Linked DNA regions of Homo sapiens. Changing the gene in region 2 together with the main gene of any one other region gives a genetic interaction. Each region holds a gene or a part of one and is shown on either strand. Other genes may lie near its edges. The genes, in order: EIPR1 and RAB6A.

Region 1 (10,191 bases), on a different chromosome or scaffold from region 2:
GATGTTCTTTGAAACCAATGAGAACAAAGACACAACATACCAGAATCTCTGGGACACATTCAAAGCAGTGTGTAGAGGGAAATTTATAGCACTAAATGCCCACAAGAGAAAGCAGGAAAGATCCAAAATTGACACCTAACATCACAATTAAAAGAACTAGAAAAGCAAGAGCAAACACATTCAAAAGCTAGCAGAAGGCAAGAAATAACTAAAATCAGAGCAGAACTGAAGGAAATAGAGACACAAAAAACCCTTCAAAAAATTAATGAATCCAGGAGCTGGTTTTTTGAAAGGATCAACAAAATTGATAGACCGCTAGCAAGACTAATAAAGAAAAAAAGAGAAGAATCAAATAGACGCAATAAAAAATGACGAAGGGGATATCACCACCAATCCCACAGAAATACAAACTACCATCAGAGAATACTACCAACACCTCTACGCAAATAAACTAGAAAATCTAGAAGAAATGGATAAATTCCTCAACACATACACTCTCCCAAGACTAAACCAGGAAGAAGTTGAATCTCTGAATAGACCAATAATAGGATCTGAAATTGTGGCAATAATCAATAGCTTACCAACCAAAAAGAGTCCAGGACCAGATGGATTCACAGCCGAATTCTACCAGAGGTATAAGGAGGAACTGGTACCATTCCTTCTGAAACTATTCCAATCAATAGAAAAAGAGGGAATCCTCCCTAACTCATTTTATTAGGCCAGCATCATCCTGATACCAAAGCCGGGCAGAGACACAACCAAAAAAGAGAATTTTAGACCAATATCCTTGATGAACATTGATGCAAAAATCCTCAATAAAATACTGGCAAACTGAATCCAGCAGCACATCAAAAAGCTTATCCACCATGATCAAGCGGGCTTCATCCCTGGGATACAAGGCTGGTTCAATCTACGCAAATCAATAAATGTAATCCAGCATATAAACAGAACCAAAGACAAAAACCATATGATTATCTCAATAGATGCAGAAAAGGCCTTTGACAAAATTCAACAACGCTTCATGCTAAAAACTCTCAATAAATTAGGTATTGATGGGAAGTATCTCAAAATAATAAGAGCTATCTATGACAAACCCACAGCCAATATCATACTGAATGGGCAAAAACTGGAAGCATTCCCTTTGAAAACTGGCACAAGACAGGGATGCCCTCTCTCACCACTCCTATTCAACATAGTGTTGGAAGTTCTGGCCAGGGCAATTAGGCAGAAGGAAATAAAGGCTATTCGATTAGGAAAAGAGGAAGTCAAATTGTCCCTGTTTGCAGACGACATGATTGTATATCTAGAAAACCCCATTGTCTCAGCCCAAAATCTCCTTAAGCTGATAAGCAACTTCAGCAAAGTCTCAGGATACAAAATCAATGTACAAAAATCACAAGCATTCTTATACACCAATAACAGACAAACAGAGAGCCAAATCATAAGTGAACTCCCATTCACAATTGCTTCAAAGAGAATAAAATACCTAGGAATCCAACTTGCAAGGCACATGAAGGACCTCTTCAAGGAGAACTACAAACCACTGCTCAATGAAATAGAAGAGAATACAAACAAATGGAAGAACATTCCATGCTCATGGGTAGGAAGAATCAATATCGTGAAAATGGCCATACTGCCCAAGGTAATTTATAGATTCAATGCCATCCCCATCAAGCTACCAATGACTTTCTTCACAGAATTAGAAAAAACTACTTTAAAGTTCATATGGAACCAAAAAAGAGCCCTCATCGCCAAGTCAATCCTAAGCCAAAAGAACAAAGCTGGAGGCATCACGCTACCTGACTTCAAACTATACTACAAGGCTACAGTAACCAAAACAGCATGTTACTGGTACCAAAACAGAGATACAGATCAATGGAACAGAACAGAGCCCTCAGAAATAATGCCGCATATCTACAACTATCTGATCTTTGACAAACCTGACAAAAACAAGCAATGGGGAAAGGATTCCCTATTTAATAAATGGTGCTGGGAAAACTGGCTAGCCATATGTAGAAAGCTGAAACTGGATCCCTTCCTTACACCTTATACAAAAATTAATTCAAGATGGAATAAAGACTTAAACGTTAGACCTAAAACCATAAGAACCCTAGAAGAAAACCTAGGCATTACCATTCAGGACATAGGCATGGGCAAGGACTTCATGTCTAAAACACCAAAAGCAATGCCAACAAAAGCCAAAATTGACAAATGGGATCTCATTAAACTAAAGAGCTTCTGTACAGCAAAAGAAACTACCAACAGAGTGAACAGGCAACCTACAAAATGGGAGAAAATTTTCACAACCTGCTCATCTGACAAAGGGCTAATATCCAGAATCTACAATGAACTCAAACAAATTTACAAGAAAAAAACAAAAAACCCCATCAAAAAGTGGGCAAAGGATATGAGCAGACACTTCTCAAAAGAAGACATTTATGCAGCCAAAAGACACATGAAAAAATGCTCATCATCACTGGCCATCAGAGAAATGCAAATCAAAACCACAATGAGATACCATCTCACACCAGTTAGAATGGCAATCATTAAAAAGTCAGGAAACAACAGGTGCTGGAGAGGATGTGGAGAAATAGGAACACTTTTACACTGTTGGTGGGACTGTAAACTAGTTCAACCATTGTGGAAGTCAGTGTGGCGATTCCTCAGGGATCTAGAACCAGAAATACCATTTGACCCAGCCATCCCATTACTGGGTATATACCCAAAGGACTATAAATCATGCTGCTATAAAGACACATGCACACGTATGTTTATTGCGGCACTATTCACAATAGCAAAGACTTGGAACCAACCCAAATGTCCAACAATGATAGACTGGATTAAGAAAATGTGGCACATATACACCATGGAATACTATGCAGCCATAAAAAATGATGAGTTCATGTCCTTTGTAGGGACGTGGATGAAATTGGAAATCATCATTCTCAGTAAACTGTCGCAAGGACAAAAAACCAAACACTGCATGTTCTCACTCACAGATGGGAATTGAACAATGAGAACACATGGACACAGGAAGGGGAACATCACACTCTGGGGACTGTTGTGGGGTGGGGGGAGGGGGGAGGGATAGCATTAGGAGATATACCTAATGCTGAATGACGAGTTAATGGGTGCAGCACACCAGCATGGCACATGTATACATATGTAACTAACTGGCACATTGTGCACATGTACCTTAAAACTTAAAATATAATAATAATTTAAAAAAAAAAGAGAGAAAAAAAAGAAAATAACATTTCAGTTAACCTCAAAGATACAATACTGAAGATAAAATCCTCTGGGTTTTTTGAGAGATTTCTTAAGGAGATCAAGAAGTTAAATTAAGTAGCACTGGCAGAGTATGCATCTTCAGGTAGTACAAGATTATAGAACCTTCTATCTACCCATGTGGTCTCTCCCTGTGTATCCCTATGTGTATCTAGTTAAAGAGAAAGCAGTAGAACTTAGCAGGTAAGGGGACTCGAGGTCAGTTTGGGTTGAAAGTCTAAGTAGGTCAGAATCCAAGGTCTATCATTTACTAGTTAAGTGGCCTTGGACAGGTAACTATTCTCTCTGAGGCTGTCTCTTCATCCGTAAAACAGGAACAATAACACCTACCAATAATGATTGCTGTGAGAATTAAATGAAATATTTGTACAGTGCTAAGCAGAGTGTCTGACACATAGTCCAGAGCTAAATCACTGGTAGTTAAGCTATCAGTCTTGTGAATGTGATATAGCCACTGGTCAAATCCTATAGCACAGTTTATTATACAGGACACTTAACTGCTGCCCTGTATAAAATTTATTTGTAAGAATTTTGTCTTAGGCAGGGTGCGGTGGCTCATGACTATAATCCCAGCACTTTGGGAGGCCAAGGAGGGCAGATCACTTGAGCTCAGGAGTGTGAGACCAGCCTGGGCAACATGGCGAAACCCCATTTCTACAAAGGAAAAAAAAGGAATTTTCTCTCATTATAACAATTAGAACAACAATTATTGAACACACTATGCACCAGGCACTGTTCTACGTGATTCAATTAAGTGTATTAACTCATTTAATTTCATAACAGCCATGAGGTGGGGGGGAGGGAGATGCATATTTTATTGGCAAGGAAACCGAGGCCCAAGGTCACATAGTTAATAAGTGCTAGAGGCAGGATTTAAAACTTAGGTGTCTGGGTGGCATATGTTATTCTACTAACACTGCTGCCTCTCTGACTGTAACCTACTTAAAAACAGACATTGGCCAGGTGCGGTGGCTCACGCCTGTAATCCCAACACTTTGGGAGGCTGAGGCAGGCAGATCACAAGGTCAGGAGTTCAAAACCAGCCAGGCCAAGATGGTGAAACCCCGTATCTACTAAAAATACAAAAATTAGTCGGGCGTGGTGGCGGGTGCCTGTAATCCCAGCTACTTGGGAGGTTGAGGCAGGAGAATCACTTAAACCCGGGAGGCGGAGGTTGCAGTGAGCCGAGGTCACGCCACTGCACTCTAGCCTGGGCAACGGAGCAAGACTCCATCTCAAAAAAAAAAAAAAAAAGCAGACATCATTTATATCTTTAACACATACTGCTGCACAAAATTATGTATCAAGTATTTCATATGGCAGTGAACTGTGTTTCTATCTCTCTATCTGTCCCTCAGTGCTTTAGGCATAACACATTCTCAAAAGCTACTTGAATAGATGAAAACCAGGACAGGGCTCTAACAGGCCCTACACAATCCTCATCTTCCTCCCCCGCTCATCTCATCCCCTACCTCATTCCCCCTGACGCATTTACTCTATCCACGGCAGCTTTCTTGCTGTCCTGAACTACCATGTGCATTGCTTATGCTCTGGGGGCTCATTCGGTTCATAGTCATTTGTTGAACACCTACTATGTGACAGTCATGAAAAGGCACTGGAAAATACAAGGTAAAAAACTAGTGTGAAAACAGTTGAATCCGAAGACAGTCTGTGGTTTACTGAATATTAGTGTACCAATGTTAATTTCTAAGCTGTGATAAATGTACGATGGTTATGTAAAGTGTTAACATTAAGGGAAGCTGGGTGGAGGGTAAAGAAGAACTTTCTATGTATTTTTACAACTCTTCTAAATACTTTAAATTGTTTCAAAATCAAACATTTTTATTTTAAACAACATACAGTTCCTACCTTCAGGAACTCAAATTCTAGAGGAAAAGGTGGGCGTGTAAATAAATGAGTCCACCAAAGTGAGTGATAACTTCCAGGTCAGAAGTCATGTTCGGGACAGGATGTGAAGGGGAAGGAGGCAGGCCGGCTGTGGCCAACCCTGTTATCCAGTACAACCGTTTAACCTCCTAAAGCCTCAGTTTACTTCTCTGCAAAATGGGAACTAGGGAACAGACACGGGTCCTTGCAGGGCTGGTGGGAGATCTGCAAACCGAAGTCACCATGGGACCGCGCATGCTATCAACAGCCAGGCCGAGCAGCACCTGCCGCCCTCCCAGTGACCCACCTGGAACTCCAGCCCGTAGATCACTGGTGCATCGTCCTCCATGCTGCGGGGAAGCGACCCGACCCCGGCCACTCACACGCTAAGGACCTCGCTACGGCCGGCGCGTCCCCACCTCGCGGGCGTGTTCCCAGCGCCCATTCATTCCCTCCCCGCAGCAAACGACTCCAAACTGGAAGTCTTTCTGGCCCAGAACAGCTTCCGTAGTGGCCACTTCCTATTTTTCGGATGTGTCATCAATCTGTTCCTCACCAGCGACCAATGGCAGCGGCGCTGGCTTGTGCGCATGGCCACTTGGGCTCACATCCGGGCTCTCAGCGCGGGGACTCCTGGAGGTGAGAACCCGGCCCAGAGGAAATAAGTTGGTGGGCGGAGCGGGCCGCGGAGGCCGGCTGTGGGTGGAGGCCGGCTCCGAGCGCAGGCCGTCGGGAGCAAGCGGCGATTAGCCTTAGCTAGCCATCGCATCTAAGAATCGCTCACGCCGTAGTTGGGCGCCGCCATGTATTGTCATTTGTATGTACTTGGCGTTCCTGAGCGCTGGGCCAGCGCTTCACACGCACTGCCATAAGGAGCTTCATCCAACCCTATGAATAAGCTGTTACACTTCCATTTTACCGATGAGACGCTGCAAAGTTGAGTAACACAGTCGCAGCGCTCATTGGTCCATTGGGTAGCCAGGATGGGCACCTGAGCTGACTCCCTTAGGTTCGGCCCAAGGTGCCCTAAGTCAGGGCCATGCCTAATGCATTTCTGCAGGTGCCCAGCACTGTGTGGCAAAGAAAGCACTACCAAGGATGGGGTTATGAAAGCCGGCACCGCACCACTGGTGGTCCTGGACTGCATATGCCTCCGAATGGGAGTCGGAAGGGAAGGCCCTGGGGTTCCTAGAGGTCTCCAAAGACTAAAGACTTGTGGTGGAGAGACTGCCCCTCTTTCGCATCCTGCTCAAAGTGCCTGCCCTGGCCTTGGGCCAGCAGAAATGGCATCGCAAGGACTCCAAAATACATCATAGCTGAACCACGCCGCTAGCCTGGTTCCACCGGGGCTTCCAGGACCACGCACCTTTCCTCCATTTCTGTGATTAGCTTTCCCCTCTACCCTTTATTGATCTCCGTGACGGAAATGGTTGGGTCTCGTTTTGCTCAGTTGGGCAAGGCGCGTGGTATTGAGTTAAGGCTGGATGAGTATCTGTTGAGTGTATGAAATTTTAGAGATTACATGAGAAATCAAATGAGCAGGCCGGGCGCGGTGGCTCACGCTTGTAACCCCAGCATTTTGGGAGGCTGAGGAGGGTGGATCACAAGGTCAGTTCGAGACCTGCCTGGCCAACACAGTGAAACCCCGTCTCTACTAAAAATACGAAACTTAGCCCAGCGTGGTGGCACGCGCCTGTAATCCCAGCTACTCGGGAGGCTGAGGCAGGAGAATCGCTTGAACCCGGGAGGCGGAGGTTGCAGTGAACCGAGATCGCGCCACTGCACTCCAGCCTGGGCGACAGAGCCAGAGTCGGTCAAAAAAAAAGAAAAGAAAAGAAAGAAATCAAGTAAGCAAAAACAAGAAAGAAAGAAATCAAGTAAGCAATGGCCCAGACATGAGAATCATCCTATTCAACCACTCTGTTTGCCGATATTAACTTGCGGAGCTAAGAGGGCCTTCATACTTCGGGATTAAACCCACCCATCTATCACTGATATCTTTATCATTAATTTTATTATACAAGTACTGCAGGTGCATGGTAAGAAACTTACAAAATACAGATAAACACAAAGACAAATCCATAGAAACACTGATTTCTAGGATATGCTGGTCAATAAAAATAGCCTAAGCGACTCCCTTTCACCCGCCCCATCTGCCACAGGCTTGCCTATTGCCTCTGAGTGACAGAATCAGGCTAGGTGGAGTGGAGTCTCCGTTCCCATTTCCAAGTACAGGGTCCGCTCCCCTCAACTACCGGCTCCTGGTTGCCTGTGCGCGTTCACACCTAGGGCTCCAGGCCCCGCCCACAGCAGACGAACCGGAAACGAACCCCATTTCCGGCCTGGGGGCAGGGCCTCGGGTTCCTGCATCGGGCCTGAGCAGAACTAGGCGCGCCGCGGCCCGGCACGCGCAGGCGTACAGAGCTCCCCGGGGGTGCCAGTTCCTCTCCGATTCCCGGCTTCTGTCACCTTCCTCACGGACCTTGGTCACGGCCGCAGGTGACCCCTTAGCCCAGCTCCAGTGGGCGGGTGGCAGGTGAGGATCAGGGCCTCGGCAGTCCAGAGGGGATGGGACCGTGTAGCGCCACCTCGGGGAGGGAGCACACTGGCTTTGGCCTCAGCCCGGAGGGACCTTCTCTGGGACCGATGCTAGAGTGGGCGTGGGGTCCGGGCGCGGGGTCGCCTGCCACCCAAGGGCGTGTGTGCTCCGCGGGCCTTGTGCCAGGCTCCACGTCGCCGCGGCCCTTGCTCTCCACGTCTGCAGAGGGCTGGAAGCGTCTCTGCAGCCCGCGGAGTTTGCGGGAAGGGGAAGCTGCTGCGAAGCGTGTGGGAAACTACCCGCTGGCGCGCGCCCAGGCGTCCCCGAGACCCCCAGTTCCAGGCTTGGTGCCAGCCAGGCCCCCAGCAAGCCCCTTAACTTCCCTTAGACTTAATTCACCCTCCCGCGGAAAGAGGTTACTAATGACCTGCCCTGCCAAACTCAGCATTGTGAGGCTGCAATGCAGTGTAAAAGCATTTGAGTCACTGTGTAAACGTCCGCTGTTGCTACACATACTAATTGTAGAGTATATTTACTGTGAAGACCGAAAAAGCGTTTATTCAACAGAAAGCGTTAGGGTCAAAGATGTGTTTTAACGTGTCATTTTTTCACTCTTCACTACGAAACAGTGTAGCCCCAAGGAAAAATTTTCTTGGACCTACGGTTTGTACTTTTTAATGGCTACTTGAAGATATGGTGTCTTTGGATTCAGTCACTGTTCGCAAATTCAGAAGATAGTGGCGGATAATGAGCCAGTCCCGTCTTGGGATTGGGGTGGGAGAGGGACAGGGGAAAAGCAAATGAAATATTACACAGTGTTACTCATTCAGTTCTTACATTTTGTGATATCTGATGGGATCTTCTTCACAGTTACTAAACTGGGTGTTGCCACTCTGCTTTATCATTAAAATGATAATTACTATGCTTGTGTCTGTGCAGCTCTTCACACTTTAAAAGATGCCTATGCAGGGGTGCCACTATTTAATCCTCTTTATTCTGATGTACCATCTAAAAGATCAAGATTTTCAGAGGTTACTTCACTTGGTCGGGAAGCTAAGACTCAACACAGTTATTGAGACACTGCCTTCAGAGCTCTTTCTGCCCACCCCTGCCTGGCAACCTTGCAAGAGGAGCTGAGAGGTGACCAGCACAAAGAAAAGAGTATTGGCAGAAAGCGCTGTGTGGGTAGCCTGTCACCATCAGGTACTGTCAGTGTGATGTTAGGCAAATCACTTGGCCTTCTCTGCTGTATGATGGAGGTAATAATAATGCTTCAAAAGTTTAGGATGAGTATTAAATAATAAGGTAAAATGCTTGATCTGTAGTGAGTGTTCATTACATGGAGACTTCTGTTAATACGTGCCACCTAGATTTCCACTACACACCCTCGTGCCCTTATGGAAGGAAATTTTACATGACTGCAATTTGGTAAAAGATATGTTTACAGAGTGTCTGTGTCCAGGAAATGAACCTGAGAAACCAAGTTTTAAATGTTGTTAGGAACTTTTTATTTCTCAAATACAGAATTACTTAAATTTAATATTTAAAAAAATTTTAAACAATTAATTAATCACATTCTTGTGCAAAGCCCTCAACTGGACAAGGAGAAAGTCAGATTTCTTTGCTGCACTGTGATGTAAAGCTTCTGTAAGCTTATGTAAGCTTAAAATCCTATTTATAGTTTAATAAAAATAAAGCCAATGATAGGAGGGAGTAAAGATTTCTATCACGTACAAATCAAGAACAGATACTTGTGTTTTTCCATTTTTAATTATGAACTATAAAGACTACCCGTAACACACATGTGAGATTTAAAGATCAAGTCAACCCAGTCTTCCATTACCAGCATAAGATGGGGACCATTTCCCAGTGCGTTGAAACTTCCGTGTGTCCCTCCCCAGTCAAGCTCTCCTGCCATCACCTTCCACCCCTCCCTCACTAAAGTGGCTGTTACTATATCCTGGCTTTTCTTTGTAGTTTGACCAAATATGTTTGTGTTCCTAACACAGAAAAAGTGTTTGGATTCAACACTTTTGTTTAATTTACATGTTTTTGAATATACAGAGTCATGCTGTTTATTTTTCTACTCATTCTTTGTGCAAAATTGTATTTGTGAGATCCAAACATAATTTATATGTTAGATATGGAAGAGTTCACTGATTTTCACCACTATTTTAATATTTTATGTCCTAGTATACCACAGTCTACTTATTTACTTATTATTGTGTCTACAGGCAGTGTTTATTTCCACTTTTTTTTTTTTTTTTTTTTTTTGAGATGGAGTCTTATTCTGCCGCCAGGCTGGAGTGCAGTGGCACGATCTTGGCTCACTGCAACCTCCGCCTCCTGGGTTCAAGTGATTCTGCTGCCTCAGCCTCCCAAGTAGCTGAGACTACAGGCGCCCGCCACCATGCCTGGCTAATTTTTTGTATTTTAATAGAGACAGCATTTCACTATGTTAGCCGGTATGGTCTTGA
Region 2 (15,991 bases):
CATGGCCACTCACTGCAACCTCTGCCTCCCGGGCTCAAGTGACTCTCCTGCCTCAGCCTCCTGAGATGGGATTACAGATGCACGCCATCATGCCCAGCTAATTTTTTGTATTTTAGTAGAGACAGGGTTTCACCATGTTGGCCAGGCTAGTCTCCAACTCCAGACCTCGCCGGGCACAGTGGCTCATGCCTGTAATCCCAGCACTTTGGGAGGCCGAGGCAGGCAGATCACGAGGTCAGGAGATCGAGACCATCCTGGCTAACACGGTGAAACCCCGTCTCTACTAAAAGTACAAAAAATTAGCCGGGCATGGTGGCGGGCGCCTGTAGTCCCAGCTACTCCGGAGGCTGAGGCAGGAGAATGGCATGAACCCGGGAGGCAGAGCTTGCAGTGAGCCGAGATTGCGCCACTGCACTCCAGCCTCGGTGACTGAGCGAGATTCCGTCTGAAAAAAAAACAAAAAAACAAAAAAACTCCAGACCTCAAGTGATCTGCCCACCTAGGCCTCCCAAAGTGCTGGGATTACAGGCGTGAGCCACCACGCCCAGCCTTAGCTCTACTTTTAAAAGCAGTGGCACTCATCATGCTATATTGTATTAAGTATTGTGTATTTCTTCCCTGATAAAACGTAAATTCCTTAAAAGTAAGCACTACCAAACCACCTGACACTGTAGCAATTTTCAATAAAGATTTGTTAAATTAAAACACTTTCTGAGCACTTCTCATGTGCCCAGCACTCTTCTAAATGTTTTGCATTATTTGACTAGTTTAAATGTCACAATAACTCTATGATAGGTCTATTATCTTTATGTTATAGATAAGGAAAAATGGGGCATAAAGACATGTTGAGTAATCTGCCAAAGGTCAGTAGCCACTGCTAAAACATGAAACCTAGACTCTTACTCTCCATCTCTACCAGTCCTCTAGTGCTCTAAATCATTAACTGTATGTACCACGCAGTTTTAAGGCTTCAGAACAAGATATGAAAAACTGGCAACATTATAACAGGAGATACAATTGACTTGATATTACCTAACCCAGCAGTTTACAAAGAGTGGTCTACTGACCCCTTAGGATCTCCCAAGACCTTTGGGGAGGTCCACAAACTCCTGGATGTCAAAACCATTTTCATAAGATTAAGATGTTATTTGAATTTTTCACTCTTACTCTCTTGAAATGTATTGTGGAGTTTCCCCGTGCCTATATGATGTGTAATATTACAGGATTGAATGCATAAGCAGCTATGCAAATCCAATTGTCCTCTATTAAGTCAGACATTAAAGAGATTTGCAAATATGTAAAACAATGTCACTCTCACTAAATATCTGTTTGGAAAATAGTTCTTTTTCATTTCAGAAATGATGTTAACATGAAGGCTGGGCACAGTGGCTCATGCCTGTAATCCCAGCACTTTGGGAGACCAAGGCAAGCAGGTCACTTGAGGCCAGGAGTTTGAGACCAGCCTGGCCAATATAGCAAAACCCTGTCTCTACTAAAAAGTCAAAAAATTAGCCAGGCATGGCGGCATGTACCTGTGGTCCCAGCTATTCAGGAGGCTGAGGCATGAGAATCGCGAACCCGGGAGGCACTCACTCCATCCTGGGCAACAGAGGGATGCAGTCAAAAAAAAAAAGGGTATTAACATGCAATGGGTTTATTATTATTATTATTATTTTTTTGAGATGGAGTTTTGCTCGTTGCCCAGGCTGGAGTGCAATGGCGTGATCTTGGCTCACTGCAACCTCCACCTCCCGGGTTCAAGGGACTCTCCTGCCTCAGCCTCCTGAGTAGCTGGCACTACCACTGGGACCGTCCACCACCATGCCAGGCTAATTTCTTTGTATTTTTAGTAGAGACGGGGTTTCACCATATTGGCCAGGTTGGTCTCAAACTTCTGGCCTCAAGTGATCCGCCCACCTCGGCCTCTCAAAATGCTGGGATTACAAGCATGAGCCACCACGCTCGGCCCTATTATTTTTTAACATATTAAATATTTTGAAATTTTCTTTTTCAATACAGTAAATGTTGATATATTTATTCATTTATTTTGAGATGGAGCCTCACTCTGTTGCCCAGGCTGGAGCGCAGTGGCACGATCTTGGCTCACTGCAACCTCCACCTCCCGAGTTCAAGCAATGCTCCTGCCTCAGCCTCCCGAAGAGCTGGGACTACAGGCACGCACCACCATGCCCGGCTAATTTTGTATTTTTAGTAGAAACGGGGTTTCGCCATGTTGCCCAGGCTGGTCTCGAACCCCTGACCTCAGGTGATCCACCCACTTCGGCCTCCCAAAGTGCTGGGATTATAGGCGTGAGCCACCGCACCCGGCCTAAATGTTGACATAAACTACATAAACAAAAGTCAGGCACAGTGGCATGTGCCTATAGTCCCAGCTACTAGGGAGGCTGAGGCAGGAGGAGAGCTTGAGACAAGGCTGCAGTTGGCCATGATAGCCCCTGTGAACAGTCACTGCATCCAAGAAGGGGGAAGGAAATGGGAAGAGGAAAGGAGGAAGGAAGGGAGAAAAGGAAAGGAAGGGGGAGGTGGAAAGGGGGAAGGAAGGGAGAAGGGGGAAGGAAGAGAAAGAAGAGGAGGAGGAGGAAGAAGAACAAGAGGAGGAGGAGAAGGAAGAGGAGGAGGAAGAAGAGGAGGAGGAGAAAGAAGAGGAGGAGGAGGAAGAAGAACAACAATAACAACTACATTAACAGAGCTCTTCAGGATCCTCAAAAATTTGTAAGAGCAGAAAGGGGTCTTGGGGAAAAAAAGTTTAAAAACCACTGATCTAGCCAATATAAAATGTTCAGTACTGGCCAGGCGTGGTGGCTCACACCTGTAATCCCAGCACTTTGGGAGGCTGAGGCCGGAGGATCTCGCCAGCTCAAAACTTTGAGACCAGCCTGGGCAACATGGTAAAATCCCATCTCTACAAAAAAATACAAAAATTAGCCAGGCGTGGTGGTGCGTGCCTGTTGTCCCAGCTACTTGGGAGGCTGAGGTGGGAGGATCACTTGAGCCTGGGAGGTGGAGGGTGCAGTGAGCTGAGATCACACCACTGCACTCCAGCCTGAGTGACAGAGGTAGACCCCGTCTCAAAAGAAAAACAACTGGTCAGTACTGCTAGTCTCTGACAATAAGACATTTTTTCCTTATCTAACATATTGCAATTTGATCAGCATTGATGGAAAAAAAGAAAAGGCAATATAAAGTGAAAAAAACAGTAGTAGGCTGAGTATGCGCTTCTCTCTGCCATTACATCTCCTAATTTATAATTGGTAACATGTATATATAGTGAAATCTTCTACTGTAAACCACTGAGTGACATTACTAAAACTGCCTCTGCATCTCAAGACAATAGCCAGAGGTAGTAACAAAACAGACTCCTCAAGGAAACTTCCAATTGTGTATTTCAACATTCCTTTATTTATTTATTTAGAGACAAAGTCTCGCTCTGAGGCCCAGGCTGGAGTGCAGTGGGGCAATCTCAGTTCACTGCAACCTCCACCTCCTGGGTTGCAGTTTTCCTGCCTCAGCCTCCTGAGTAGCTGGGATTACAGGCACACGCCACCACGCCCAGCTAGTTTTTGGATTTTTAGTAGAGATGGGATTTTGCCATGTTGGCCAGGCTGGTCTTGAACTCCTGACCTCAGGTGATTTGCCTGCCTCGGACTCCTAAAGTGCTGGGATTACAGGCGTGAGCCACCACGCCCAGCCAAACATTCCTTTATTAAACCGTAAGAATTTATCTAAGGTTAAGATTGATGTCATTAACTCAATCTGCTTCATGTACTGACACAATTCATTTTCACTATAGAGCGTAGTATCTTAAATATACATACATATATATATATATATATATATATATATATATTTTTTTTTTTTTTTTTTTTTTTTTTTTTCTTGAGACAGAGTCTCACTCTGTCACCCAGGCTGCAGTGCAATGGCATGATCTCAGCTCACTGCACCCTCCGCCTCTCAGGTTCAAGCGATTCTCCTGCCTCAGCCTCCTGAGTAGCTGGGATTACAGGCTCCCACCCGCCATCATACCTGGATAATTTTTGTATTTTTGTAGAGACCGGGCCATGGGGTGGGGGGGAGCCGGGGACTCCACCATGTTAGCCAGGCTGGTCTTGAACTGCTGACCTCAGATGATTCACCTATCTCAGCCTCCCAAAGTGCTGGGATTACAGGCATGAACCACCGCACCCAGCCTAGTATCTTAAATTTTTGATAAGCCAAATAAAACCTAATTTCAAATCAGTTCCATGAGCACATCATTGGTATAATTTGAATACTTTTCATGCGTTACATTAATAGCAAATAATTTAACAACTTTAATAAAGGAAGACGAATTTTGCTCAACTCAAAAAAAAGTACAAAATTCAGGTCAGTCCTATTTTTTGAATGAAATGGTTGGGCCTCTAAACGATTGGTTTCTCTACCCCCTTAAGTATCTGATATATTCCTGTATACAATCAAATGATGTAAGTTTTAAGTGTTATTGTTAAACTATCAATTGCGTAACCATGTCAAAGAGTGTAACATAGGCTACTAGCTTTCGTTACTACTAGATTCAGCCATCATTCATTTACCCAACATGTCTGAACAGCTACTATGAGCCTGGCTCTACGCTAGGCAATGGGGACACACTGAACAAAAAAGAATAGTTTTTATCTTCATGGGAGTTGCATTCTTCTGTGGGAAATAAAAACAAACACATAAAAAATAAGATAATTGTAAATGTGGTAAATGCTATTAAGAAGAAACAAGGCTTTGCCATAGATTACAGTCTTTGAAAGCTGAATTGTGGAATTCTAACAGACCTAAAAATAAATAATTCATGAAGAGTTACATCAAAAGGACATGGAGTCTACAGACTTCTAACGCATAAGAAAACTATAGACACTGACCATGAAAACAGAGATCAATCTTTCATTGTCAAAGCTAATGAATGGCATTACTTGACAATATAGTAACCTCAAAAGATAATTAACTTCACATCCTGAATTGAATGCTGAAACAGAAAAAGGACATTAGGTTAAAACTAAAAATCTAAATAAACTATGGACTTAAGTTAATAATAACATATCAATATTAGTTCATTAATTGTTAACAAATGTGCCATACTAATGCAAGATGTTGATAACAGGGGAAACTAGATGTGTGGGTATATGGGAACTCTACACTATCTTTTCAATTTTTCTGTAAGTCTAAAACTGTTCTAAAAAATGAAGTCTATTAAAAAAAATCTAACCAGGCTTCAGTAATGGAGGGGGGAGGGTAGTAGAGGCTTAAACAAGGTACGAAATTAGAAGCCATAAAACTCTCCATTATGCATTAGAACATACACAAATACTCAAGAAATTCAAAGGAAACCTGAAGATACTTAGGAAGTTAAGCACTCCATTCATGCTAAAACCTTTTTAGGCAGGAAGATGAATAGGTTTTTTCATGCAAACTAAATAGCTGTGCATCACAACATAAGGAAGGCAATAATATCCTTAGAATGCACAATAAGCACTTTGGATCCTTTTTATCAATAATAACCAATAAACTATATTTTATGTTTGGGAACTATCCTGATATTGACACAGAAAAGCTGGACTAGAAGCAACTCCATAGGTTCTACCAAGTTACTCACCTAAAGACACAAGTTTATACTTACTTCAGGAAAATATATAAGCAAAAAGGAGGGAGATTGTATTTTTCCCCCCAAAAGGGAGGAGGGGAAGATAATCTACACATGAAAGGAGAAAAATGATTTCCCAGTTCTAACTGGAGGCAATTTTGCAAGAGTATTAACCTCTGTGATGGCATACAAATTAGTATAAATAGTTCAAAGTAGTAATAAAAGCTACGAATTTATATCACTTACATGCCTTCCAGTCAAAACAAATAACTAATGTTTTCTATAACCTCACCTAAAACACCTAGTAGGTACTCAATGTTTGATGACTCAGAACTAATCTCTCAATGTCTGAATTTTAAAGATGGGCATGCAAAGTATGAGAAAAACAAAGGAGGGTAATCATCTCTGAATTGTCGAGTGTCAAGTTTGTATAATACAGCATAAAACTGGAATTACTACAAGAAGTAATCGTAGATACAACCATCACAAAATTAGGATCTAGTATCTAATACAAAAGTACAGTGACAGCAGAACCTGACCAGGTAAATGACATAACAATTTCACTCATCAGACAGTACAGAATATTAAGCATAAAAGAATTATTTAGCCCAAATGGTATTTAAATCTAATTTAGGTAACTAGATGATGAGTCTGTTCCTACTCTACTCCATTTTCCAAAGGAAATCCGACAAAACAAAGATGTTTGTTATTCCAAGCCTTCTCTCACATGAATCCTCAATATATCATTGGAAAATACTCAAGAAGGAATGAATAATTAACATTTCCCCAGTAATTCCCTTTTGTACCACCATGAGACTCAGACGCTGCTTCATGTTGAAAAGAGAAAAAGGGGAGGTGAGATGAGAAAAATTCCAAGTAAAATGATCATGACATAGCATCTGGCAGAGATTGAAAAATCATCAACATTGCCAAAAGAATTGTCAGTGATGAAAGTCAAGAGAACAAAATGAGGTTTTCCGACAAGCCACAGCCCCATCTAACCTAAGGGGCAAAAATCTCCACTGCCGACGCTACCCCTTTCACCCCCAACCACCCCATGCTCAAGTCGTCTCCAATTCAGATGTTTCCTCTATGGCCCAGACTAATTTCCCACCCAGGTGAAAATCATTTAATTTTTTCTACTACCACCCCTTCCCACCTTCCACGACATCAGCACTTCGCAGGGCCAAGCCTCTGGGGAAAACAACGCCCAGATCCCACCCTCCTTGGCCAAGGTTGAAGAGGGCCCGCTCTCGGGAGTGGGGCTTCCCTGAGTGGGCCTCACAGAGCTGAGGAACTGGGAAAAGAGCAAGGAATAAGGGTGGGGCTCAAGAAAGGGGGCCGGGGTACGGGCAATGACCGAGACCGGAGGAAGAAAGGGATGGACAAGAGGCTGGGCGGGGTGAGGTCTGGGGAGGGAGGGCAGATCGACCGGAGATGGCCGGACTGCGGGGAACGGAGCCGGGGAGTCGAGGATTGAAGAACCCGGGGAACAGGGTAAAAACTCGGCCACTGGCGAAGAGCCAGTGGCACCGGGGGGCACATCGGGAAGGGCTGCGGTGGCAACGAGCGCGGACGCGAGGCGGGCAGGGAGCCTCCGCGGACGGAAGGGCCGCACCGGGGGCGGTGCGGGGACGCTGCGGCCAGCTGCCAGGAGTAGGGGAGCCACGCACTCACCGCTTTGCTCCCCCAGGAACACCAGCTTGAATTTCCTCAGCGGATTCCCGAAGTCTCCGCCCGTGGACATTGTGGAACTAGAGGAGCGGCCGCCGCCTCAGCCTAGAGACCTCCCGGACCGATGCTGCTCCAGCCAGCTGACGAAAAAGGCGAGCGGAAGGGCGGGCACCGAGCTCTCTCGGCCCCTGCAAGGCCCGGTGGAGGAGCCCGGCTGGAGGGCAGCAGGACTCTCCACAGACTGGCAGCCGCCGCCGCCTCCCGGCAGAGTAGCCTAGCACCGAGCGAGGCCCGCGGCTGGGAAGGGAAGGAGGGCGGTGTCGGCAGGAGCCAGGGGTGTCCTCTGGCTTCCCAAAGCTAGGGCCGTTCCCTCCTTCCGCACTCGGCTCCCAGACCTGGGGAAGAGAAGCTGAGGGTGGCGGAGCCGGAACCGCAGACGTATCTGGGACCTCTCACGCGCAGCGCCTGAGCTTCCACAGCTGCCGCCGCCGCCGCAGCCCAACCTGCTGAGTGCGCGAGCCTCTGGAGCGGCGCGGGGCGAGCCCGGGCGCGAGCCTGCGGCCCCGCCGGCCGCTGGCGTGCGTGCGTGCGTGCATGCGTGCGCGCCACCGCCATCGCCATCGCCTTCCTGGTTTGGACAGCTCTACCGGCTCCTCCCGCACGGCGGCGACGGGGCAGGTTAGGTTTCCACTGGCGTCAAAAGAAGCCAGGAGGAGGCGGGGCAAGCCAGGGATAAGTTAGTGGGAGGCTGGAGCCCTTACGTCACTTACATAATGAGCCAATCGGAAGGGGCTGAGGGCGAGCCCACACGCGAGTGAGGTGGCAGCGTGAGAGCGCGCGCAGCCCTCGAGCTGTGGAAAGCGGAGCACTGTGGCGGCCATAAGAAGTGTGGCGCCTCTCAGCCTGAGGGGAGGGGAAGGAAAGAAAGGGGAGGGGGAGAAGGGTGGGGCGGAGGCGGGGCCGGGACAAAGGTGGAATATGATCCCCCAAAAAGTGTGGGTGGGGTCCTATAGCCTTAAAATTTGTAATGGGAGCCTCTTTCCTGAGCCCTCAGCCGTGCCTCACAGTCCTCAGATCCCTTCTTCACCATTGCACACACCCCACCTTCTCCATCCTCTCATCATAATTCCTCACAGGCATCTTACTAAATAACATTCTCCTCCATTGCTCCCAGGAATGTTATAACTGCCAGAATCATGGCCTCCCAATTTTGCAGATGAGGAAACTGAAGCTTAGAGGGAGTAAATGACTTGCAAAATCCATAAAGCGGGCTGGGCGCGGTGGCCCACGGCTGTAATCCCAGCACTTTGGGAGGCGGAGGCGAGTGGATCACGAGGTCAAGAGATCGAGACCATCCTGGCCAACATGGTGAAACCCTGTCTCTACTAAAAATGCAAAAATTAGCTGGGGGTGGTGGCGCGCGCCTGTAGTCCCAGCTACTCGGGAAGCTGAGGCAGGAGAATCGCTTGAACCCGGGAGGCGGAGGTTGCAGTGAGCCGAGATCACACCACTGCACTCCAGCCTGGCGACAGAGCGAGACTCCATCTCAACAGAAAAAAAAAAAAAAAAAAAAAAAAAAAGCCGGGCGTGGTGGCTCATCCCTGTAATCCCAGCACTTTGGAAGGCTGAGTTGGGTGGATCACCTGACGTCAGGAGTTCCAGACCAGCCTTGGCCAACATGATGAAACCCCATCTCTACTAAAAATACAAAAAATTAACGTGGTGTGGTGGCGGGTGCCTGTAATCCCAGCTACTTGGGAGGCTGAGGCAGGAGAATCGCTTGAACACGGGAGGCGGAGGTTGCAGTGAGCCAAGGTCACACCATTGCACTCCAGTCTGGGCAACAAGAGCGAGACTCTGTCTCCAAAAAAAAAAATCCATAAAGCAGCTGGGCGCGGTGGCTCACGTCTGTAATCCCAGCACTTTGGGAGGCCGAGGCGGTAGAATCGCTTGAGCCCAGGAGTTCGAGACCAGGCTGGGCAACAAAGCAAGACACTATCTCTACAAAAAATAAAATAGCCGAATATCGTGGTGTGCTCCTGTAGTTCCGGCTACTCAGGAGCCTGAAGCAGAAGGATTGCTTGAGTCCAGGAGTTGGAGGCTGAGGTATGGCACCACTACACTGAAATCTGGGTGACAGAACAAGTCCCTGTCTTAAAAAAAAAAAAAAAAAACAAAAAAACTTTCTAAGTGAATAATAAAAAATATGTCCTTACATTTGTGTCTATACACAAATGTATATCATTTGTGTATATCATTCACAAAACATTTATGTACTTTTTCTCATTATTGGGGAGTTATTTGCTTAGCTGTAGAAATGACAGGATTGAAAAAGTGCCTTCTCAGGCCCAGGGATGAATTGCTGACCTAGAATAAATTACAGGGAAGAACCAAAGTTCTTAAAATATCATCTATTCTGGCCTATCAAGACAACAGCTATATCCTCAAACCATCTCTATCAAAATTTACTCCCTTCTGGTTCCTCTCCCAGCCATGTGCAGGTAGAACATGCATCTAAAATAAAATGGTAAAAACCTGGCTTGTAGCATGGACATTTGATTTTACAAGTAGTTTGTCAGATCTAATAGGGTCCTCTCCACCATTAACCCAGAACCCTGGCACATACAAAGAGCAGCTTAAACCAAGAAACTTTTTAAAAAGATTATGCAAACAAAAGTGAGTAGCTATTTTCTTTCTGATGGGTACCAAGTTTTCATTATGCTTCCTGAAATAGACTTTAAAGTAACATCTGAGGATTGGAACTATAATTACTTTGTACTTCCTACAGAACTTTATGAATCAGTCCTCCCTGCTGCTTTGGTCTCTGTAGTCACCTAGACAGGTGGTACTGTTCCCTGTCATTTTGAAGGGCCTTATGGTCTAGTCCACCTCTTACCTAAAATGTTTTAATGTTTTAAGCTTTCATTTTGCATTGACACATACACAGCCTCATTATCCTCTGAAGCTGCCTTCATATTACCAAGTACTCTGTGTAAGTTTTGTCTTCAGAGACTTTATGGCCTAAACATTGCATATTAAGTGCTGTAGGGTATAGCAAATGGAAAAATTACTCAGGAGAAAGAGGAATTAGAGAGGCCCTTTTCAAGAGTATTTTCACCAACATTTTCACCTTCATGATTTCCTACGCTCACTTCTCTTTACTGCAAACACTCTTCCCCTCCCTTCCCCACTCTTCCCCAATTCCTACTCATCCTTCAGTTAAAGAAATTGTCTTTTTTTTTTTTTCTTTTAAATCACTTACCACTTAAAGAAGTTGTCTTTGTCCATTCAGGCTGCTATAACAGAATACCATGACTGGGTGGCTTAAACAACAAATGTTTATTTCTCACAGCTGGAGACTGGAAAGTCCAAGAGCAAGGTACCAGAAGATACTGTGTCTGGTGAAGGCCCACTTCCTGGTTCATAGACAACCATCTTCTCACTGTGCCCTCACATGGCAGAAAGAGAGCAAGAAAGCTCTCTGGGCTCCCTCTTACAAGGGAACTAATCCCATTTATGAGCACTCCACCCTCATGACCTAATCACCTCCCTAGGGTCCCACCTACTAATACCATCACATTGGGGACTATAGTTTCAACATATGAATTTTGGGGAGACACAAACATTCAGTCTACCACACAAGTCTTGCTCCCATCTGCTCCCATCCCCACTAACAGTATAAGTACCTTTGCCTGTCCTATTGTATCCTATTCTTAATTGCTGTTCATTGTCAGTGTTCCCTACTTGACTGTAACCTCCACGAGGTCAGATCTCATCTTGTATCCCCAGTGCTTGAAGAGTGCTTGCTACATAGTAAGCATGCAGCAGATGTTTGCTGACAAAATCAAATAAAAGAGGAATTATTTTTCACTGTCTTCAAAGGATGAATGGGATTTGGGCATGCAGAGAAGGAAGGTTAAGAGCATTTTGGAGAAAGAGAACATTACCCAAAAATATGTCATGTAATTTGATACTTCTTTCCTAAACCATTACTTATGAAAAAGATGCTGAGAACAGATCTTGTAACTAAAAATTAGGAACAATGGGAGAGGACAGTCTTCACAGCTCCAAATTCAAAGTACCTAAAGCAGCTTTCATTATCTATTTAAAGGTCATATCTAAATTGAAGCCCAGGAGTATGTAGGGAATCTATCACACAGAAATTGTAATAAAATTATAGCTTATCTTCTGCCCTGAGAGACACAAAACTTCTTGCAGGAGGACTGAATTTTTTTTTTTTTTTTTTTTTTGAGACAGAGTTTTGCTCTTGTTGCCCGGGCTGGAGTGCAATGGCGTGATCTCGGCTCACCGCAACCTCCGCCTGTCGGGTTCAAGCAATTCTCCCACCTCAGCCTCCTGAGTAGCTGAGATTACAGGCATGTGCCATCACGCCCAGCTAATTGTGTATTTTTACTAGAGATGGGGTTTCTCCATGTTGGTCAGGCTAGTCTCGAACCCCCGACCTTAGATGATCTGCCCATCTTGCTCTCCCAAAGTGCTGGGACTACAGGCGTGAGCCACTGTGCTTGGCTGAAATTTCTCTTTTTCCTTTTTGGAGACAGAGTCTTACTCTGTCCAGGCTGGAGTGCAGTGGCCGATCTCGGCTCACTGCAACCTCCACTTCCTGGGTTCAAGCGATTCTCCTGCCTCAGCCTCCTGAGTAGCTGAGATTACAGAAGTGTGCCACCATGTCCAGCTAATTTTTGTATTTTCAGTAGAGACGGGGTTTCACCATGTTGGCCAGGCTAGTCTCAAACTCCTGACCTCAAGTGATCCTCCTGCCTTGGCCTCCCAAAGTGCTGAGATTACAGGCGTGAGCCACTGCGCCCAGTCAATTTCATCTTATTCTTAGTGACAGACACTAGTGGTTGCATATCCAGCAATGCACACATAACACACACACATACTTCCACCATATATACTAGAAATGACAGATGTGTTTCCAGCCTCCCTTCAGCTAAGTTATAGGCACATGAGTCCATCTGAGCCAGTGGGAGATGAAGGAAATGTGCTAGAGGCTTTTTTTATTCTAAGAGAAGAAGAGAGATAGAGAGACATATTTTCTTCCTTGATGAAAAGGAATAAATGAGAAAAAACTGCCATTTTTCTGCCATTGATGTAGCTGTGTAAGGACATGATATTTAGAGCTAAGATAGCTCTTCTGAACATTGAAGCTCTGCCTCCCGGGTTCACGCCGTTTTCCTGCCTCAGCCTCCCGAATAGCTGGGACTACAGGCGCCTGCCACCATGCCCGGCTAATTTTTTTGTATTTTTAGTAGAGATGGGGTTTCACTGTGTTAGCCAGGATGGTCTTGATCTCCTGACCTCGTGATCTGCCCGCCTCAGCCTCCCAAAGTGCTGGGATTATAGGCGTGAGCCACCGCACCCGGCCGAACATTAATATATAATTCTAATGAAAAAAGCCAATCATTGATGACGGCTAAGCAGAAAGCTAAAAGGCATCATTGAGCCGCTGTACCAGCCCTGGAACTGGCCGCCTAGATTTCTTTTTAGTAACATAATAAATGTCTTTATATTTAATAATGCTTTTATGTGTCTTTGTATTTCTTTGTTATTGTTACTTGCAGCTCACATTCTCATATTTAGATCCCTTAAAACACCTTGCATAGTTCCTTGAATATTAGGCACTCAATATTGTATGTGTATATATAAAGTAGTAGTTACCACACTGGAACTGCCTTTTTCTGTTTACTACTCCCTAAAAAGGGATTTATTACTGTTGGAGAGGCAGGAAATCAATAGAAGGAGAAAAACTGTACAGGTAAAAGGACTGAAATCATATTGCTCACATTTGAAACAAATAATAGCTCTGGCAGGAATTCAAATTCCATCAAATGCAAAGCCCTTCTAACCCACACTGCAGGTTATTATAATCATTGCTACTAAAAATAATAATGGGTCAATATACAAAGCATAAAAATGACAAATGCTCAGTAATTCAAGGTGACCAGTTAAATGAGTACAATTAACACAAGGTATGTTGAAGTAAGTCTCATTTTTAAAAGACTACAAAAAATAAAGGGGGAGACGAGTCATGTTAAAACCTGTTTTCCAAATACTTTGACCTATAAGGACATGCCATGGGAGAATAAAGATTATTCAGTCAAAGTGGAGAAGGTGTTAGAACTTAAATGGAATGGTCCTTCCTGTAATTATAGCCAATTAATAGCTAAGTCAGAAGATATTTTTGCTACGGATTGATCTACAGAATCTATTTTTGATAATTCCATTTTGTTCTGTTCATGTGAATCATGGTCCCCATTATGAATAATGTGATTTCTCAAAGCCTTGTAAGTGAGGTGTTACTTCCAGGCTTTGAAATTGCAGTGGGGGAAGAACTTGCTGCTTTTTATGCTAGTCCAGAATGTATAAAATCTGACACATTGCTGGAGCTCTCCTCTCCCCACACTCTATCCCCCACAAATAATAAAGTCTCCTCTAAGATGTACAAGAGAATGAATCACTCCACCTGCTACTAAGTGATAATCACTCTCAGAGTAGAAGAGAACAACTGCCTCTACTGCTGTTTATATAAAGAACAGAGCATCTTAGGATAGAAAAGTGAGACCAACACTGTTTGCACTGAAATACCAACAGACTGCACAGCCAAATTGTAACTTGCCAAAGAAGCCAAGAGAAACTATCTTTCTGTGAATATTTCTTCGGCTTTTCAATTAACACAAAGTAACTAGGACTTTATTTTATATAAAATCAAAAGATATCAAAATAATTATAGAAGTTGTAGCTCAAACTATGAAGTGAGATAATAAGCCCCAACATCACAGGAAAAATGAAAAAACTACCGGTTTTAGGAAGATAAAGATGTTCTGTCTTCTCTCTCTGAAACCATTCCAAAACGAGAATAAAGAAATTAAAATGCAAACTCTGGATTTGACATCTGTAACCCAGAGCCATAATATTTTAAGATGGGGGACAAAGATAGAGCAATGGTAACTGACTAAACAGAACATATAAAGTGCTTACTGAAGGATGAATTAACAAGAAGCAAGCCAATCAGCTAAGCGGAACTGCAGAAATTCTGCTCAGGAATGTGAAATACCAGGTACCATATAAGGTAGGGGGTAAAACGAGGACAAAAACAAGGGAATTGTATCAAGGACTGTATGAACAGCATTTTAAACCCATCCCTTTCTATGGTGAAACTGAATATAAGAAGCTCTCAGCAGCGGGGCGCCGTGGCTCACGCCTATAACCCCAGCACTTTGGGAGGTCGAAGCGGGGCGGATAGCCTGAGGTCAGGAGTTCGAGACCAGCATGGCCAGCATGGTGAAACCCTTACTAAAAATACAAAAATTAGCCGGGCATGGTACCAGGCACCTGTAATCCCAGCTACTTGGGAAGATTGAGGCAGGAGAATCGCTTGAACCCAGGAAGCGGAGGTTGCAGTGAACCGAGATCGCGCCATTGCACTCCAGCCTGGACAACAGGGTGAGACTCCGTCTCAAAAAAAAAAAGTTCTAGGCTCAGTTAACCAGGCATAGTAAAGTACCAGGGTGAGGTGCTGCCAAAAGACAGGGGAATTGATAAACAACCATCTCTTCCCAAGCATCTTCCATAACAACGGCAGGCAGTCTCATATGCCTAAAAAAGAGACTGAGTTTCGCCCTTGTTGCTCAGGCTGGAGTGTGGAGTGCAATGGCGCGATCTTGGCTCACTGCAACCTCCACCTCCCGGGTTCAAGCAATTCTCCTGCCTCAGCCCCCCGAGTAGCTGGGACAGGCGCATGGCACCATGCCCAGCTAATTTTTTTATATTTTTAGTAGACACAGGGTTTCACTGTGTTAGCCAGGATGGTCTCGATCTCCTGACCTCCTGATCTGCCCACCTCAGCCTCCCAAAGTGCTGGGATTACAGGCGTGAGCCACAGGGCCCGGCCCACATTAATTTCTAGACCAGCCTGGGCAACATGATGAAACCTCATCTCTACCAAAAATACAAAAAATTAGCCAGGCATGGTGGTGCACTTCTGTGATCCCAGCTACTCAGGAGGTTGAGATGGGAGGATTCCTTGAGCCTGGGAAGTGGAGATTTCAGTGAGCCGAGATCATGCCACTGCACTCCAGCCTGGGTGACAGAGCGAGACTCCGTCTCAAAAAAAAAAAAAAAAATCCACCAAAACAAAACAAAACCAATTCGCATTATTTTCATCAATAAAGACAAAAAATTTCCAAATCACTTTTCATACCAACTGTCTTCCTGGCTTTACCTGACACGCTGTTATTGCTGTTGTCCAGATCGGAGATTATCAAGGACAGTGTGCAGTCTTTCCAGAGGAGGCTTGCAAGAACACCTACATCGTAGCTGTAGTCCAATACAGACAACAAAGATTACAATAGGGTTGACATGTGCCCTTTATATATATACTCCACTATCTTTTGATGAGGGAAAAAAACAAACAAAAAAAAAAAAAAAACAAAAAAATAAAGAAAAAAACCCCACAGTTTATTTGCTATGTGATCCATTTACTAACATTATCATTTCAGAACCTTTCAGCTGGAAGAAACAGAAAACTCAACTCTAAATAATTTAAATGGGCGGGCTCTGTGGCTCACATCTGTAATCCCAGCACTTTGGTGCGGCCAAGGCAGGAGGATCACTTGACCTCAGGAGTTAAGAGACCAGCCTGGCCAACATGGTGAAACCTCGTTT

Evidence for each region.
Region 1: changes in RAB6A (region 2) and EIPR1 are lethal when combined (synthetic lethality), as found in Homo sapiens cells (one study listed by BioGRID).

What each region holds. Positions count from the first base shown.
Region 1 is NC_000002.12:3,372,166-3,382,356, forward strand, and holds the start of EIPR1 (EARP and GARP complex-interacting protein 1), read right to left. Parts: upstream 5,654-10,191; 5' UTR 5,525-5,653; coding exon 5,483-5,524; intron 1-5,482. UniProt on the Homo sapiens protein: Acts as a component of endosomal retrieval machinery that is involved in protein transport from early endosomes to either recycling endosomes or the trans-Golgi network.
Region 2 is NC_000011.10:73,753,263-73,769,253, forward strand, and holds the start of RAB6A (ras-related protein Rab-6A), read right to left. Parts: upstream 7,813-15,991; 5' UTR 7,374-7,812; coding exon 7,304-7,373; intron 6,834-7,303; exon of another isoform or gene 6,786-6,833; intron 1-6,785. UniProt on the Homo sapiens protein: The small GTPases Rab are key regulators of intracellular membrane trafficking, from the formation of transport vesicles to their fusion with membranes.